Linked DNA regions of Homo sapiens: region 2 is linked to region 1. Evidence: fine-mapped expression QTL. A gene starts in region 1. The other region holds a variant in brackets. All regions are shown on one strand. Distances are from middle to middle. Region 1 holds the start of PHTF2 (putative homeodomain transcription factor 2). Region 2 overlaps PHTF2 (putative homeodomain transcription factor 2).

Region 1 (8,343 bases):
TATGCATTCCATCTGGTTTAATGAGTTTGATGTACTTTCTTCAGAAAAAAGTTGATAATGTGAAGCTCTCTTCCTATATTTTCCCTTCTTTTGTGTGGGTAAAATGATTATTCAACTCTGCCGGTTGAATCCTATTGCCTCCCTTTAAGGTTTTATTTGCTTGTTTGCCATTTTCTGGCTTCTCTTATTCTATCTGGAAATTGTTATTTTAAAACCTACACACACACACACACACACACACACACACACACACACGCCTGTTCAACTCAGTCAAATAACTGCAACAACCACTTTTTGAGCTAGTCTTAGAAATCAAGAATATGTCAAGTGCTTTACATACATTATCTCATTTAATTCTTAAAATCTCGCAAAGTAGGTAACTCCATTTAAAGAATAAATAAAACTGAACCTCAAAAATATTACATAATGAGTCCAATGTCACACAACCAGTGATGGCAGTATCAGGACTTGAACCTAGGTCTACAGAGCACCAAAACTTGTGCCACCTAATTTTCATAAATTTTCTGGTATCTGTAACAAATCCTATACAAAAGGTCTTACAAAAGTACTTTCATTCATGCAACAAATATGAATGCCTACATGTCTTTAAAATTTCTGTAGATATACTTTTAACAGCCCCTTTCTTGTACTGTTTTTGCAACTGGAAAGCTGCATACTATGCACTTTTCCCTTTACTTCCTCTCATTAAATGTCAAATTTAATCATGTTATGATTATTATCAGGTAGTGGTTCAGCCACAGCTATTTCCTGCCCCAGTTCCTGTTCAGTACCCAGAATAAAATCCAGCATATTTTCATTCCTAGTGCTCTAAAACTACCTGTTCCAGGAAGCAATCAGTTGTTCTCATCTGAAAACTCACTTCTATATTTTGTGTCACATTAGCAATTTTCATGAGAATAACAAAGTGGACTAAAAATGCAGTTTTCCTAAATGTCACTTAATATTTTCCACTTAGTCATATGATTCTGGTCATCAAGTGATGTTTCAGATTTGTAAATTTAACGTATTTATGGTTTGGTATTAATCTGAGAAGAAGATAGAAGCACGAGACTTTCTCAGATTTTCAAGGGCAGTCCCAATTTAAAACACACTGGCCAGGAGTGGTGGCTTATATCTGTAATCCCAGGACTTTGGTAGGCCAAGATGGGAAAATCACTTGAGGTCTCTAGCCTGGCCAACATAGCAAGACCCTGTATGTACAAAAAAATAAAAATTAAAACATTAGCTGGACACAGTGGTGCATGCCTGCAGGTCTAGCTACTCAGGAGGCTAAGGCAACAGGATTGCCTGAGCCTGGGAGTTCAAGGTTACAGTAATTACACTACTGTACTCCAACCTGGAAGACAGAATGAGACCCTGTCTCAAAATAAAAAAACTCTGTCCCACTATCATGTATCAAGTAGGGATTAAGAAAAGACAGTCAAAATATATGCAAAGGGGAGTTCACAATAATGACTCCATGTGGCTACAGGCTAGGTAAAGGGGTTAAGGGATGGCAACCATCATTTTGGAATTCTTCTTTGAGTCTTAATTTGAACTGGGAAAGTAAGTATTGGAAGGTGAATATTAAATAAACATGTAATAATGGACAAACTGCTGAGGTTTTCCTATAATTTTAGTATCTAAGTATGCAATTTCCAATTATCAAAATTGGGTAGTACTCACTTTGCCCAACCACATTTACATACCATTATCATTTAAAGCTGGCCTTCACACATACATTTTATACAAAGCTACAATTACTTACCATTCCCTAAACAATCCATATTTCTGTTCTGAGACTCTGCCTCTTCCTGTTCTGCATGGAATGCCCTCTTTCTCCACCTACAAACACCACCTTCAGACCTTTAAGGCTTCAGTGGTAGCTCCCCTGAAACCCAACTAGTTCTCTCTTAAAATTATTTATTGTTTCTTTTGTATTCACTGCTTTCTATGTGCCCGTACTTTATATATTTTATTTAAGGCTTAATGTCTTCTTTGAAGTATTGCCCTTTCCATTAAACAGATAAGGAAACTGATGCTAAAAGAGGTTTGGTGTTATGTTCAAAGTCACAAAGCCTGATAGGAATTCAAATCCAGACTGTCTATACTTTAACTGAATTCTTGTCTCAAGAATTATTGGGACCACAAGCATTTTGGATTTTGGATTTTGTAATATTTGCATATACATAAAGAGATATCTTAGAGATGGGACTCAAGTCTAAACACAAAATTCATTTATGTTTCATTTACACCTTATACAAATAGCCCAAAGGTAATTTTATATAACATTTTAAAATAATTCTGTGCATGAAGCTAAGTTTTGACTGTTTTTTTGTTTTGTTTTGTTTTTGTTTTTGAGACGGTGTCTTGCTCTGTCACCCAGGCCAAGTGCAGTGGTGCGATCTCGGCTCACTGCAACCTCCACCTCCTGGGTTCAAGCGATTCTCCTGTATCAGCCTCCCGAGTAGCTGGGACTACAGGTGCATACCACCACGCCCGGCTAATTTTTTTTGTATTTTTAGTAGAGACGGGGTTTCATATTGGTCAGGCTGGTCTTGAACTCCTGACCTCAGGTGATCCACCCGCCTTGGCCTCCCAAAGTGCTGGGATTACGGGCGTGAGCCACCGCACCCAGCTTGACTGTAACCTGTCACATGAAGTCAAGTGTCTTGTGGCATCATCTTGGCACTCAAAAGGTTCCAGATTTTAGAGCATTTCAGATTTTCAGTTTACAGATGCTCAATCTGTATATATTGTATTATCGTCATTTGTTCAAATATCTATTTCTCCCATCAAATGAATGCTCCTCAAACACAGAGAAGGTGACTCCATCCCTTTATCTTCAGCAAAATCCAACAGTGCCTATTATACAATGATCTCAAAGTGTTACTGTGTACAATAGTGGATTCAATTTACGGTTTTGCAGTGTTATTTTCCACTGAGTAGTCTCCTACTATAAAGTCTCCAAGAAGCCAATTTTATTGTGGTAATAAAGTATAATGGCTTGGAATGTAGGCTTTGGAATCAGACTGCTTAGGTGTGAATCTCACCTCTACTGACTCATTTGTGAAGAAATCTTGAACAAATTAGTTAAACTAAGTCTTGGTTTGCTCATCTATAAAATGACAGTAATCAGTACCCATCTCACAGGACTAAAATGATTAAATAATATACAAGTAGTCCAACTATTTTCGAGTTTCATTTTATCCACATGACACCCTAAATTCTCTTCAGTTTAGTGAAGGTTTTTTTCATTACATATTCCTTGCAATTTTGCATTAAATGGACCAGCCAAAAAAAGTTCATGGTTTAAAAATTGGGTGGGCCACCTTCTTCATTTTTAGGGCCAACTGTCCAGTGCCAGTTTGGGCTCAAAAAAAGTTTACTCTTGGAGGCTTGACTATCTATGCAAGAGTGCCCCCATTGTATACTATACTTGTTTACTCACCACATTTTCATGCTCCACCAGAAAGTGGTCAAAATTGGAACACGAAAACTCTCCACCTCACTAACACCTAACTTAAAACTATCAGATGCATTCAGACAGCCAGTCTGTGTGGGAGGCAGGCTATTTCTGGGGCAAAAATATTTCCTGGAACCACTGTTTCTGGCCCCAGACATGGCTCATTCTCCGCAGACCTCCAGATTCCTCTCCTCTACGTTATGGAGGTGGAGCCACTACAACTGATAACGCATATCCATTTCCTTCTCTTAAAATTTGCAGTCCATACACCATATCCAAGTTAGGATTTCAAATTGTTATACTGTTTTGTGACTCTTTAGGCTAAAGTGTGCAGTTTCCAGACTTTCAGAATTCCCCTTCCAATATTAAAAATATGGTGAAAAAAGCCCAGTTTGAAAGAAAATAAACTTTACAAAAATACCTGAAAACAAGATCAAATACTAAGTCTCTTGCCAAAGTCTTGGAGAAAAAAAAAATGAAAGAAACGTTTAAAAATGGCAAAAGCTAACCAAAAACCTTAAGATTAAAGTATCACACCTGAAAAGTAGTCTCAAAGCAAGGAGGATATACTATTAACAAAGAAAGCAACCGAAAACTACAAAATATTTAATATTCACCATGAATTTCAAAATTACTTGGCATGTAAAGTACACACTGAGATTAATAAATTGTTCCAGATTCTGCACTGCCCAGGTTAGTATAAGGCAGTTCCTTGTTTTCGCCACGCTAAAAATAAGAAGGGTGACAGATTAGTGACAGAATGATCCCTGAAGTTACACAAGGAGGTGCTGAGTTAGAAAGCCATGACTCGAAGGACAATACCAGAATGCTGGCTGTCAACACTGGGCAGATAAAAATAAGAAAAGCTGAAGCATGCTGATGGAGCACGGTATTGTTTCCAGACGGGAACTATCCCTTAAGGCCCATGCCTTAAGCACCCACTCCGCCGTGTTGGGATCAGAAAACTCGACTGCCGCCTGCTCAGAGGGGGCAGGGCAGCGACCCTCCTTCCACCTCCTCCAGCGCGCGAGCCGCCGCCCCCTCCCGAGCCCGCTCCTCCGGCCGCTAGCTGACATCTCCCCGCCAGCCGGGCTAGCCACCCGAGACCCCTGAACGCCCTTCCAGGACCCGACGACCCCTCAGCACAGCGCCAAGGGAAGGAAGCAAAGGACAGGGGCCTGGAAGCGGGGCCCGAGGGGCGGGTGGCGCGCTGGGCTTCGGCCCGTCACCATCAAGACTTGAGGACCGCGCGAGCTCGGGAGGAAGGCGGCTGAGCCTCCGCCACCGGCCGACTGATGAGAAGGGGTCGCGGCTGACCCCGGCCCTCAGGTACGGGAGACTGCCGGGAAAGTCGCCGGCGACGGAGGGCGACGCGTTGGCCCCGGAGCCCCCACCTCCATCCCGACGACCGCTCTCCTCCCTCGTCCCGATCCATCCTCGAAATTCTGTCAGAACTCGACGACCTCCACACTGCCCACCCGAGCGCGGAGGTGATGCCGCTCTTACCGTAGGAGCGAGCGCCGCGCCGCTAGGAGGCGGCTGAGGTGCGCGCGGGAGACTCCGAAGCTAGCGCCGCCGCCAACAGAGCCCAAGGAGCCACAACGAGGCTGCCCGCGGGCGCGCTGCCTCCAGAGGGTTGCCCCACCCCCTCTCCCGCAGGATTTTGCGCCGGAGCCTGCAGTCACTGCGCGCGGGCAGGGAGGATGGGAGGAGGGGCGGGGCGTCCCGAGAGGGCGGAGCTGAGCGCCGGCTGCTCTGATTAACATCTGTGGGCCCAATGGGAGCACGGAAACTCCAGGCTGATCTTGGACTGACTTCCCTACTAACCCGTGACAGTAGAGAGGCGGGACCAATGGGTCTTTTTATTGCCGCCTTTCTGTCGAACCCGAAAGTAAGGAAAGGTCGGTTGGTTTGCACTGGCGGACAAATGGTCCAATTACCGCGGAAAAGGGACCTCTGAATCCAGATTGGCGTCCTCTCTACCTATAGGGTAGGCTCAGGGGCGGTGAGAACCAGCCCCGGATGTGGGCGCGGCACTGAGGTAGAACTGAGAGATCCTCTACCGCAGTCGTTTGAGGAGGCGGAACTGAAGTTTTTTCTTAATTATCATGTGACGGGTTCTGGATTTAATGGGGGGAAAAGGGCGGAAAAGGACAAGGATCCAAACTGGCGAATTTGCTGATCTTCGCGTCCCTCTCCGCTTTCCGGCCGGCAGCGCTGCCAGGTGAGTCTGGGGCTCTGCCCTAGCCCGCACCGTACGCCGGCGCTGGTCTCCTGATGCTTCCGTGGGCTGTGCGGCCGACCCTCAACCCATCACACAGCCAGCCCCAAACGCGCACACGCCTGCTTGGCTCCAGGGCTTCTGTGCGCATCCAGCAGGAACCGTGTTAAACTCCAGCATGTGCTGGGCTTACAGCCCATGAAAGGGGAGCGTCCCGGTGGGGCGCCGCGAGCCGACTGTCGGTGTTTGCAGAAGGGCAAGTATAGTTTAGGAGCGTCCTGAAGTTCCAGGGGCAAATAGGCCCCCAGATGAGCTAAGTTGTAAGCAGAACGCTGTTCCTTTGGCCAAGGCTGTTGCTGCACGGGCTTTTCAAAAGCGACTCATTATGAAGAAGAATAAATATGTGGGCTCATGAAGCAAAATTATCTTTGGGATGAGGCAGGTTCACTTGGTAGACTACTGGCAGTGGCGAGAGAAGGGAAATGGGGGCTGATACCCAGCCGTGGGCTATGTGGGTGGGGCTCTATATATGTCCATACAGGGGTAACTCCGAAGGTTTTAAAAATGAGTAAGGAATCATTAACAAATATTTAACTGTCTTCCTAGTGCCAGAAATAACCACCTTAAATGGGAAACATTTTAGTTGAGCACATTTTTGGAGTACGCACCTCCCCCTTTCTTGTGGAGAGAATAGTAGGAAACATAACGACTGCTCAAATTGATGAAGACGTAAATGTAAAACTGGGATCGTATGTCATCGTTGTAGCTCAGCATACAGGCGTACAATCCTTCAATCGTCATTTAAGTATCAGCAGTGCTTCCCCATTGAGGGTATTTCCGTGCAAGAACATAACAGAATTTTGTTGCATCCCACATTATAAATCTTGTAGGCACAATAAGATTGTTACTTGCATCCTTTCACCTCCAGCCCTAAAGCACCTGTGGTAAGTACAGCCAAATGTAAGAAAAAAATGAAGCTTGTCTTATCCGATAGCAGATGGAACAGTTAGGTTTAAGCAAGTGTATAATCATAAACCGTTTTTCAGAGGTTCACAAAAACGGCCTGATAGATTGGAGGTGGGGATTGTGCAATTTACGGGATGAAATCCATCCATGGTTATTAATCAACACACACCCCTCCAACCCTGCTTCCAAATTCAGTCCCACATCCCACTCTATGGCAGCCTCTGGCCGGGAAAGGAAACCAACACAGAAAAATGCCTCCTTAGAAGCAAAATTACTGCAGTATGAAGCCTTTGCCAATTAAGTAAACAAGTTTAAGTGCCACTAGATGGGTATAAGGGAAAAGAGGTGAGTTAGGAGACTAATACTTAACTGTTGAAATAGAACAGATGTGTCCTCTTGCACTGTGATAGCCACCCACTATTTAAAGTAGTAGAGATGTTGCACAGTACATCAAAGTTAGTTCTAAAATATAATTGAGCACGCTAATCTAGGGTATTTGGCTCAATTAGCCAGTTCCTTCACCTTTTCCCTGTTATCTTCCTGCATCTTTCCTCCTACCACGCATGCTTTTGTTCCTATCCCTAGCACCTTCTGATCTTTTTCTCTTTCCATCAAGTATCCTCTCTCATCTTCAGTGTCATTCCCCATTGGCTTATTTCTGTTTATAGTCATAAATTCTTCCTTTCCTGAAAATTTCTTCTTTCAGTTTCATATACCCTATCTTTCATTTTTCTCTTCTCCAAATGCCTCAAAGGAATAAAATGTTCTCAATTGTTTCCATTTCTTGGTCTTCTGTTAACTCCTTACCCAGCTGCATGCAGTCTGGCTTCTGATTTCCCATTCTACTTATCCTTTTTCCAAGTGGCCATAAAGGTTGGTATAAAAAACTTAAGTAGAGGAACATATCATAAACCTATATGTGAAGATTAAATATAATAAATGCTATCCCAAGCTAAGTTTTATGCATTCATAATCAAAATTCTAGGTTTTCAAGAATCAGCAAATTTAGCATTGAAAAACTGTAAGGGCAAAATAGAAAATATTCTAGAAAAGAGGCCGGCGTGGTGGCTCAAACCTGTAATCCCAACACTTTGGGAGGCTGAGGTGGGTGGATCACTTGAGGTCAGGAGTTCGAGATCAGCCTGGCCAACATGGTGAAACCCCATCTCTACTAAAAATACAAAAACTAGCTGGGCGTGGTGGCGCACACTTGTAATCCCAGCTACTTGGGAAACTTAAGTGGGAGGATCACTTGAACCCGAGAGGCAGAGGCTGCAGTGACCTGAGATCGTGCCACTGCACTCCAACCTGAGTGACAAGAGTGAGACTCCGTCTCAAAAAAAAAAAAAATTCTAGAAAAGAGAACAACGAGTAGATACTAGGCCTTCCAGATATTAATACATTCCTAGAGCAACACTAAGTCATATAGTATTAGTGCAAAAGAGAAACATATAGATCAATGAGGCAGAATAGTGATATAAGAAATAGCCCCCAAAATTTAGCATCTAATAATCACAAAACATCAAAAGTTTATTAGGTGGTCCTGATTATTGAATGGATAACAAGTAGCTTAAAAAAATACATATATACACCACCAATCAGTGAGACTATTGTTAAAAGGAAAAAAACTATTATACCAAGAAAGATATTTGTAAGAATTTTTATGAGAAAATAAGTGAGAATTTAAGAA
Region 2 (8,343 bases), 140 kb before region 1:
TCCTGCCTCATCCTCCCGAGCAGCTGCGATTACAGGCGCGAGCCACCATGCCCAGTTAATTTTGTATTTTCAGTAGAGAGAGGTTTCACCATATTGGCCAGGCTGCTTGCGAACTCCTGACCTCAAGTGCTCTGACTGCCTCAGCCTCCCAAAATGCTGGGATTACAGGCGTGGGCCACCACACCCAGCCTCCTCCTGTAATTCTTATTAGACCTATGTTGGATCTCCCACGATGTCTAAATATCCATTTTGCATTTTCTGTCTCTTTATCTCTGTCCTGTATTTTAGTCATTTCTTTCACCTCCCAGTTCACTATGTCTTTAGCTTTCTTTAATTTGCTATTTATTCTGTTCATTGTGTTTTAAAAGTCAGTGACTTTGTTCCAGCAGTGAAAAGCAAAAAACAAGTCAAAAGTCAATAACTGTATTTTTCATTTGTCTGAAGTTCTTTTTCAAACTTATCTGTTCTTTTTTCACAGTGTTATCTATGTCTTTCATCACTGTAAACAAACTTAGTTTCCACCTGATCAAACTGAAATAGCTGGAGATCTAATCCTGCTATGGGTTTATCTGTTGACTCCTTCATGTTAGACTGTTTCTTCCTATGTTTTGATACCGGAAGGAGCTTTATCTGTGGTTCCCGTGAGGTCTAGGCTGAAGTCGCATGCCTCCAAACAGCCTTGGTTTTGCTTCTGTCAGGTATCCAGGGGCCTAGGACCACTTTTTATATTAACTTTTTGACATGAGGGTTACAGGACAAGATGTATAATGTCAATATGAACCCTAAACCTGTAGTAAGGGAAGAGTTATAATTATATATTCTTAGAAGAGACTTTTCCCCCGTCCTTGTCATCCAGAGTCAGATAAGCTTCCTTCTTGTCGTCCAGTGCTGGTGAGCAGACTGTTTTTCTTATCCAACTTTTCACTGAGGCTGTAGATCTTTGAGGGTTTGACTTCATGGTGTGAGTAGGGAGGTACACAGGTCAAGGCCTCATCTCCTGTCCTACGTGGGCATAAAATTTCAAGTCTCTGGGATACAATACTAATACTGGCAATGTACTTCACTCTCTTATTCTCATGCTGCCATAGCATTAATGCTTATTCTTAAATGCTCTGGTTTTCAGTTTTGTCTTCATTTTTGGCCCTTTATTATCTTATGAACTCAGATATGTACACAATATGTACATTCAAAAGCTGAGGGTTCCCCCGAGCATTGTTTGATTTTTTTTTTTATTTGTTTGTTTTTGGAGACAGAGTCTTGCTGTATCCCCCAGGCTGGAGTGCAGTGGTGCAATCTCCGCCTTCTGGGTTCAAGCAATTCTCATGCCTCAGCCTCCTGAATAGCTGGGATTACAGGCGCCTACCACCATGCCCGGCTAATTTTTGTATTTTTAATAGAGACGAGGTTTTACCATGTTGGTCGGGCTGGTCTCGAACTCCTGACCTCAGGTGATCCGCACTCCTTGGCCTCCCAAAGGGCTGGGATTACAGGTGTGAGCCACTGTGCCCGGCCTGTTTGATGTTTTAAAGTAGAAGAATTTTCAGATAATCTAGTACATCATACTACTTGGAATGGAGGTTTGCATATATTTTATTATTTTTGTTTTTAAAATTTTAATACGTTTAAACTTATTTTTTAATATTACACGGCCCATGACACAACCCTCAGGAGACCCTGAGAACATGTTCCCCTGCATTATAGCAGTGCATATCCTGAGATACTTTTGTACTCCCTAACTAAGCTGGGTCACTAAAAATTCTTTTTCAGAGTATGCAGCAGTTAAGTCACAGTAACAATTCAGGTATAAAAAATGAAAGAATAGGTCGGGCGCTGTGGCTCACGCCTGTAATCCCAGCACTTTGGGAGGCCGAGGCGGGCAGATCACGAGGTCAGGAGATTGAGACCATCCTGGCTAACACGGTGAAACCCCGTCTCTACTAAAAAAAATACAAAAAATAAATTAGCCGGGTGTGGTGGTGGGCACCTGTAGTCCCAGCTACTCAGGAGGCTGAGGCAGGAGAATGGCGTGAACCCGGGAGGCGGAGGTTGCAGTGAGCCGAGATCGCGCCACTGCACTCCGCCTGCGCGACAGAGCGAGACTCCATCTCAAAAAAAAGAAAGAAAGAAAGAAAGAAAAGAATAGTAAACATGAATAAATTGGATATTCATGGGACAATTTCATAACTCATACGTTTCTTTTGGGAAGTAAAGATAATGAGAAGGATTCTAGGCAAAAATTAATTAATCTGTGTTCATTCAACAGACATTTGAGCATACATGCTCACTGTTCATGGCACAGAGATAAGATGCACTTATTTATTCTACCAAAAAAACTGCAAAAAGGTAACTTCAAAACTTACTTTCTAACTAGGCTTACTTATATTATTATTTGATTATTTATTAATCTGAAAGTTAATATTTATATATCTGGTTAATTTCTACATGGAGCGAGTTAACTCACCTGGGCACAACAGATAAATACAACTGAGATAGTCAATAAGAAAGCAGATGAAACTATTACATCAACTGATCGCTGAGGACCTCGACGCTGCAGGGTGTGGGTGGAAGGGAGAAAAGGAAACATTTTAAAATATATTTACTAATCAGCAGATAATTTCCATGGTTTCAATAAAGGTGTTGACTCATCACCATCAGTTGATCACAGCCCACAATGTTGAATATACCTAATTTGTTAGGCAAATTTTAATGATAGTGTTATGATTTCCTGAGGAATTGCAACAGAGTTAAAAGGGTATCTATATTTATATAGCATAAAATTATTGGTATAACTTTCAAATACTTCATTTTGTCAAACACAAGTCATTTATTCGACAAATATTTCTTAAGCACCTGCTTAGCACTAGATACTGTGCTGGGTGCTACAAATACAACAGAGAACAACACATGGTCCCTCTACCTTCACAGGAACTAGGAGGGGAGTGAGACATCAAGTTAATAATCACAGATATATGTGATAAATTGTGATGAGTGCTAAAAGGGAAAGACATAGGATGCTTTGAGATACTTGGCAGGGAGACTTCATTTAGATTTGAGGGTTAGGAGTGCGGGCCTGTGAAGATCTCCCTAAGGAAGTGATATTTACACCAAACTAAGGGGGAGGGGCAGGGGCATGATGGCACACAGCAGTGTTCTAGGTAGAAGGAAGGGCATGTGCAAGAACATAAAGCAGGACAGATCACAGCTCATGTAAAGAACGGAAGCAGTCTAAAATGGTTGGAATGTAGTGGACTAGGAAGGAGAGTGTTTCAAAATGAAACAAAAGACAGGTGAATAAGGGAGAACTTAGATCATAAAGGGCATTATAAACCTTGTTAAGATTTTGTGCTTTATCTTAAGAGAAATGAAGAACCTCCAAAAAGTTTTAAGAATATAGGGCCAAATATACATTTTTAAATGATCACTGGTGGCAGACTGAAGAAAGGAATGAAAAGAAGAAATGTGAATGCTGGAATGCCAGGTAAGAGGTAACTGAAGTAGCATGAGGTAGAAGATGATTGATGGTTTCAATGAGGGTGGCAGAAATGGAACAAAGAGAAGCAAATGGATTCAAGATATATTTTGGGAGCAGAAAAGATAGGAATTGGTGATAAATTGGAGACTAGAGATTAAACTAGGATAATTCCTAGGTCTGGGCTTACATTCCCTCACTGAAGTATAAGCTTACGTATGAGGGTAGGGGCTTTCATCTCATCAACAATGAATGGCACATGGTTAACATAAATAAGTGTTTACGGAATAAAATAATCAATGTACAAAAGAATGTAACACCTGCTTAGGGTTGACAATGGAGGAAATTTTGGACGAATTCAAGCGATCAGATTCATCCCTCCATACAACAGATATGTCATAGGAAAAAAATATCCATGCCAATTTGCAGCAGTGACACTAAGTAAGCTAAATTTAACAAGTTAAATTAATAAACAGAACAATGAATTTTTTAAATATAAGAGTAGAGAAATAGGGCATTATTATTATTAGGGCTTCTTTGATTATTATTTCAAAATATAAAGCATTAAAGATCTAGGTATGTCAGAGGATGATTGGTCTTCAGGTCAACTTTACTAAGATACAGACAGTGCTGTGAATAAATATCATTGGAATTTGCATGATTACTCCATATATAATGACATTCTACTGCTACTTAATGCAATAACAAGAAGTAATCCTCAGAAAAAAAGTGTTTTCCTAAAACCAATTTAGATGTTTCCCTCTTCCCTCCAGAGTTTTTATATCATACTTCCATAATTAGGAAAATTACTCAAAAGATTAAAGGAAAATAATGACATGAAAAGAATGACACTGAATTGCAAACTAATATTTTAAAATAGTAATAGGTCACTTCTGTGAGGAAACTCATTGGTTATTTTTTTTAAATTCTTTTTTAAGTAGTGGGCTCCCTCTGCTGGCTTGTGACAACCAGGCTAGTAGAAACAAAATCCCTAATCCAGTTTTTGAATGAGTAAAAGCTGGTTACTATACATCTAGAGACAAATATATATTGATAAAGAAACTGGAACTATCAGAAAGGGCCAGCATGTTAAAGCTACTTTTATCACTCCCATTCTACCTTAAGATAGGAACGGAGAGATAGCCACATTTTTATATTCTGTACTTTCTTCAACCGGAAATGAGGAACCTCAGATTTTCGAGCCCTCCTTGCAGATGTTAAATGTCCAAAGAGTTTTGCAAAAAGTAATCGCTAAAAAAGATTAAGATGAGGATTAATTTTCAAGTAGATTACCACAGAAAAACAAAATTAACAAAATATGAATTGTTAAGATTTTATTTGGTTAGGTACTATAAAAGCAAAATAAAAAATAATTAGGTAAAAATGATATAATGAAATAATAAAGTACTTCAGGAATACTTTTAATATTATGAAAACGATAAAATATTCTTATTCGGAAGTCTACATTATACCCACCTGTTTATAAGTTCTTTCTGCTACACAGAGCAAAAAAAAGAAAATCCACACAAGAGACAC[G/A]CGAACCACAAAACTTATTATAACCATAGAAAGAACTATGACATCTTCATTAGAACCAAATGCAATCACATAAAGTTCTGAAGCAGAATGTGCTGTGAGTTGTTCCAAGTCTGTAGCTTGAGAAAGTCGGAAAACAAATGGAGTTAAACCCAGTATGAGAGAGACTGCATTTCCAAAAATCTGGTATCCTATTCCTGGTATATGGCTGTTCACCTTGAGGGAGCCAGGGGAAGAGAGAGAAAAGAAAAATAAAATTATACCATAAATTTTATCTACAGTAGAATTATTTATAGCAATATGAAATCATTTGTTAAAATATACTCATTCTGAGTAATTTGAATCCCATTCAAGTTTGAGAGCCTACTACATATAAAATGTCATTAATTCTTCAGATCTTAAAAACAATTATCAGATCGCTAATTTACTAAGTAGATGGCAAAAGGACTGTCATCCAGATCTTGAAAAAAATTTATGTATTTCATTATTTCAAGTTAGAAATATTCATAAATACTGCAATATTAAAGAGAATGAGATCTCATATCCACTGAAATTCAGTTCATTGAAGAAAAAACTCAGCATTACACTTATTTCATACGTTTGTACATTTGTAACTTGAGGTTTTCTTTCTGTTTTCTTTTTTTTTTTTTTTTTTTGAGACAGGGTCTCACTCTATTGCCCAGGCTGGAGTACAGTGGCACAATAATGGGCTCAAGTGATCCCTCCCAACTCAGCATTCCTAGTAGCTGGGACTACAGGTATACACCACCGCCCCCAGCTAATTTTTTGGGTTTTGTAGAGATGTAAAGACAGGGTTTCACTATGTTGCTCAGGCTGGTCTTTAACTCCTGGGCTCAAGCGATCATCCCTCCTCTAGCTCCCAAAGTGTTGAGATTACAGGCATAAGCCAACACACCCAGCCGCTTACATTTCTCTTTGAATAGTCCAATATATAAATAAGTGTCTCCTTAAACTCTAAAAGCATTTTAGAAGAGAGATGATAGAAGGAAGAAGAAATTAAACAGAAAGGGAAAAAGGTGAGGGAATTATTTTAAAAAAGGAAATTAGATAATGGGACAATATAAAAGCTTCCAGTATGCTAGACTGGCAGAACTAAAAGAGATCTTAACTATCATGTAGCCAACTTTTTATAATATATATTAGATAAATGAGACCATTGTAAGTTAAGTGATCTGCCAATTCACAGGTAATTAAGTTACAGAGCACAAACTAGATCCAAGATTCCAGAGACTTCCCCGTCAACTGCTTTTAATTGCTCACACTGAGATATGTTATAGGGAGTATTATCAATTTCTAGACCCAGTTATTATAATTCCTGTCTTACACAAAGTGTGGAGAAGAGTTCAAGCACAATAATGCACCAAAGAAATTTAGAAATTGCAAGTTAAAAACAAGTCCAGAGAAATCAACACATTTTATTTTATTTTATTTTTATTTATTTATTTTTTGAGACGGAGTCTCGCTCTGTCGCCCAGGCTGGAGTGCAGTGGCGTGATCTTGGCTCACTGCAAGCTCCGCCTCCCAGGTTAATGCCATTCTCCTGCCTCAGCCTCCCGAGTAGCTGGGACTACAGGCGCCCGCCACCACGCCCGGCTAATTTTTTGTATTTTTAGTAGAGACAGGGTTTCACCACGCCTGGCTAATTTTTTTGTATTTTTAGTAGAGACGGGGTTTCACCATGTTAGCCAGGATGGTCTCGATCTCCTGACCTTGTGATCCGCCCGCCTCAGCCTCCCAAAGTGCTGGGATTACAGGCGTGAGCCACCGCGCCCGGCCAATCAACACATTTTAAAAATCAGTAATTATCTGAAAAAAGAAATAATAGAAAATAAAATTTTAATCCACAGTATTTCAATTAGACTTCTTTGAACTACTCAAGACTTTTACCACTATCTGCATTACTTCTATATATTTAAGTAGGTAAGCAAGTATGAATGCAAATTTACTAGTTTGATTTTTTCATGTCTTAAGTCCTATTAAACAAATGAACCAGTAAGAATGATACAGAAAAATAAGTCTTTTTAATTATTTTTTTATTTTTAAAGTTCTTGTAACAACAATCTCTAGTCCAAAGAAAAGTCTTTATTAACACCTGTATATATCTAACAAGCTCCTGAATTTCAAAAGAAAGAAAAAGATAAAAGAGAAAAATTATAGACCGTATCATCTATTCTTGGTCAGATAAGTGAAAACACTAGAAGATGAGAGTGGTTTGGTGACAAATCACTGTTTAAATTACAGACAGAAACAAATACACACATGTAACTTTTTTTTCAGGGTGAAGAAATGAGGTCAGAAGGTTACTAATATAATATTCCAGTAATTATCTTATATATAATTACTAAGTCTTACCCTTGAACTACAAGAATAAAATTTAAAAACTCACTCTGTTCATTATCATTCCACTGATTTCAAGTACAGACATGTCTGCTTTCTTACAATCATTACCTTCCCATACTATAGCACTTATTTTTTCTAATCCTGGGTGGGAACTATGGAGCCAGGGCAAATGACTCTATAAAAAAAAAAAAAATTAGTAAATATATAGATCACATTTAATAAATAAAATGTGTGTATATAAAGTTGTATATATATCTCTATATACACACACAATTTTAATGACACTAAAAATAAAAATTGGTGAATATATTTATCATGTTTTATAAATGGAATATATAGATCTGTGCACAGCTAATATATTTATACACACAACTCTAAGACACTAAAATTCTATCTTAAAATTAGTTAGCATATACACTGAACAGATATCATAAGAAGTTACATGGTTATGAAACTGTACAAGTTGAGAACTTTCTGTAACAAGTATTAGTCAACCTATGTTCAAAAATATACTAAAACATGTCAGCAAAAGTACTTAGTTGTCAGTCTACACAGCTGCAATATACTAATGCTAAAAGACAAATGGATATCAACTTGTTCATAGTAATCATTGTCCAACTTATGATCATTAAAAAAGAATATGACAGCTGAGATTTGAATCTCTTTGAAAGACCATATAGTGCTAGTCTTATCCCAAAAAAGACTCTTCCTTACATATTTAACGTTTAATATCTGATTTAGTTACTTTTCTGATATTTTAATCCAGCATTTCTCCAAAGGACCCATTTAACTTTTTTTTTTTTTCCAGATAAAGCAAATATTACAAAACTGAAGCACTCAGCCTCCTGAGTAGCTCGGACTACAGGCACCTGCCACCATGCCTGGCTAATTTTTTTATTTTTAGTAGAGACGGGGTTTCACCATGTTGGCCAGGCTGGTCTCTAACTCCTGACCTCAGGTGATCCACCGGCCTCTACCTC

What was found.
Region 2: its variant is fine-mapped to the expression of PHTF2 in whole blood (TOPMed, PIP 0.92).

The regions. Positions count from the first base shown.
Region 1 is chr7:77,795,601-77,803,943 of GRCh38, reverse strand. It overlaps PHTF2 (putative homeodomain transcription factor 2), which reads right to left and starts at 5,171. Exons shown (of 19, transcript NM_001395272.1): 1 at 4,973-5,171. TMEM60 (transmembrane protein 60) reads left to right here and starts at 5,510. Exons shown (of 2, transcript NM_032936.4): 1 at 5,510-5,690. RefSeq lists a silencer at 5,091-5,230 and an enhancer at 5,641-5,750.
Region 2 is chr7:77,936,905-77,945,247 of GRCh38, reverse strand. It overlaps PHTF2 (putative homeodomain transcription factor 2), which reads right to left. Exons shown (of 19, transcript NM_001395272.1): 12 at 7,410-7,538; 13 at 4,946-5,218; 14 at 4,589-4,720; 15 at 2,462-2,548. Among named protein-coding and RNA genes, the nearest start is that of DDX3ILA1, 49 kb to the left of the region's middle. The variant G/A (reference allele first, on the strand shown) is at 5,006.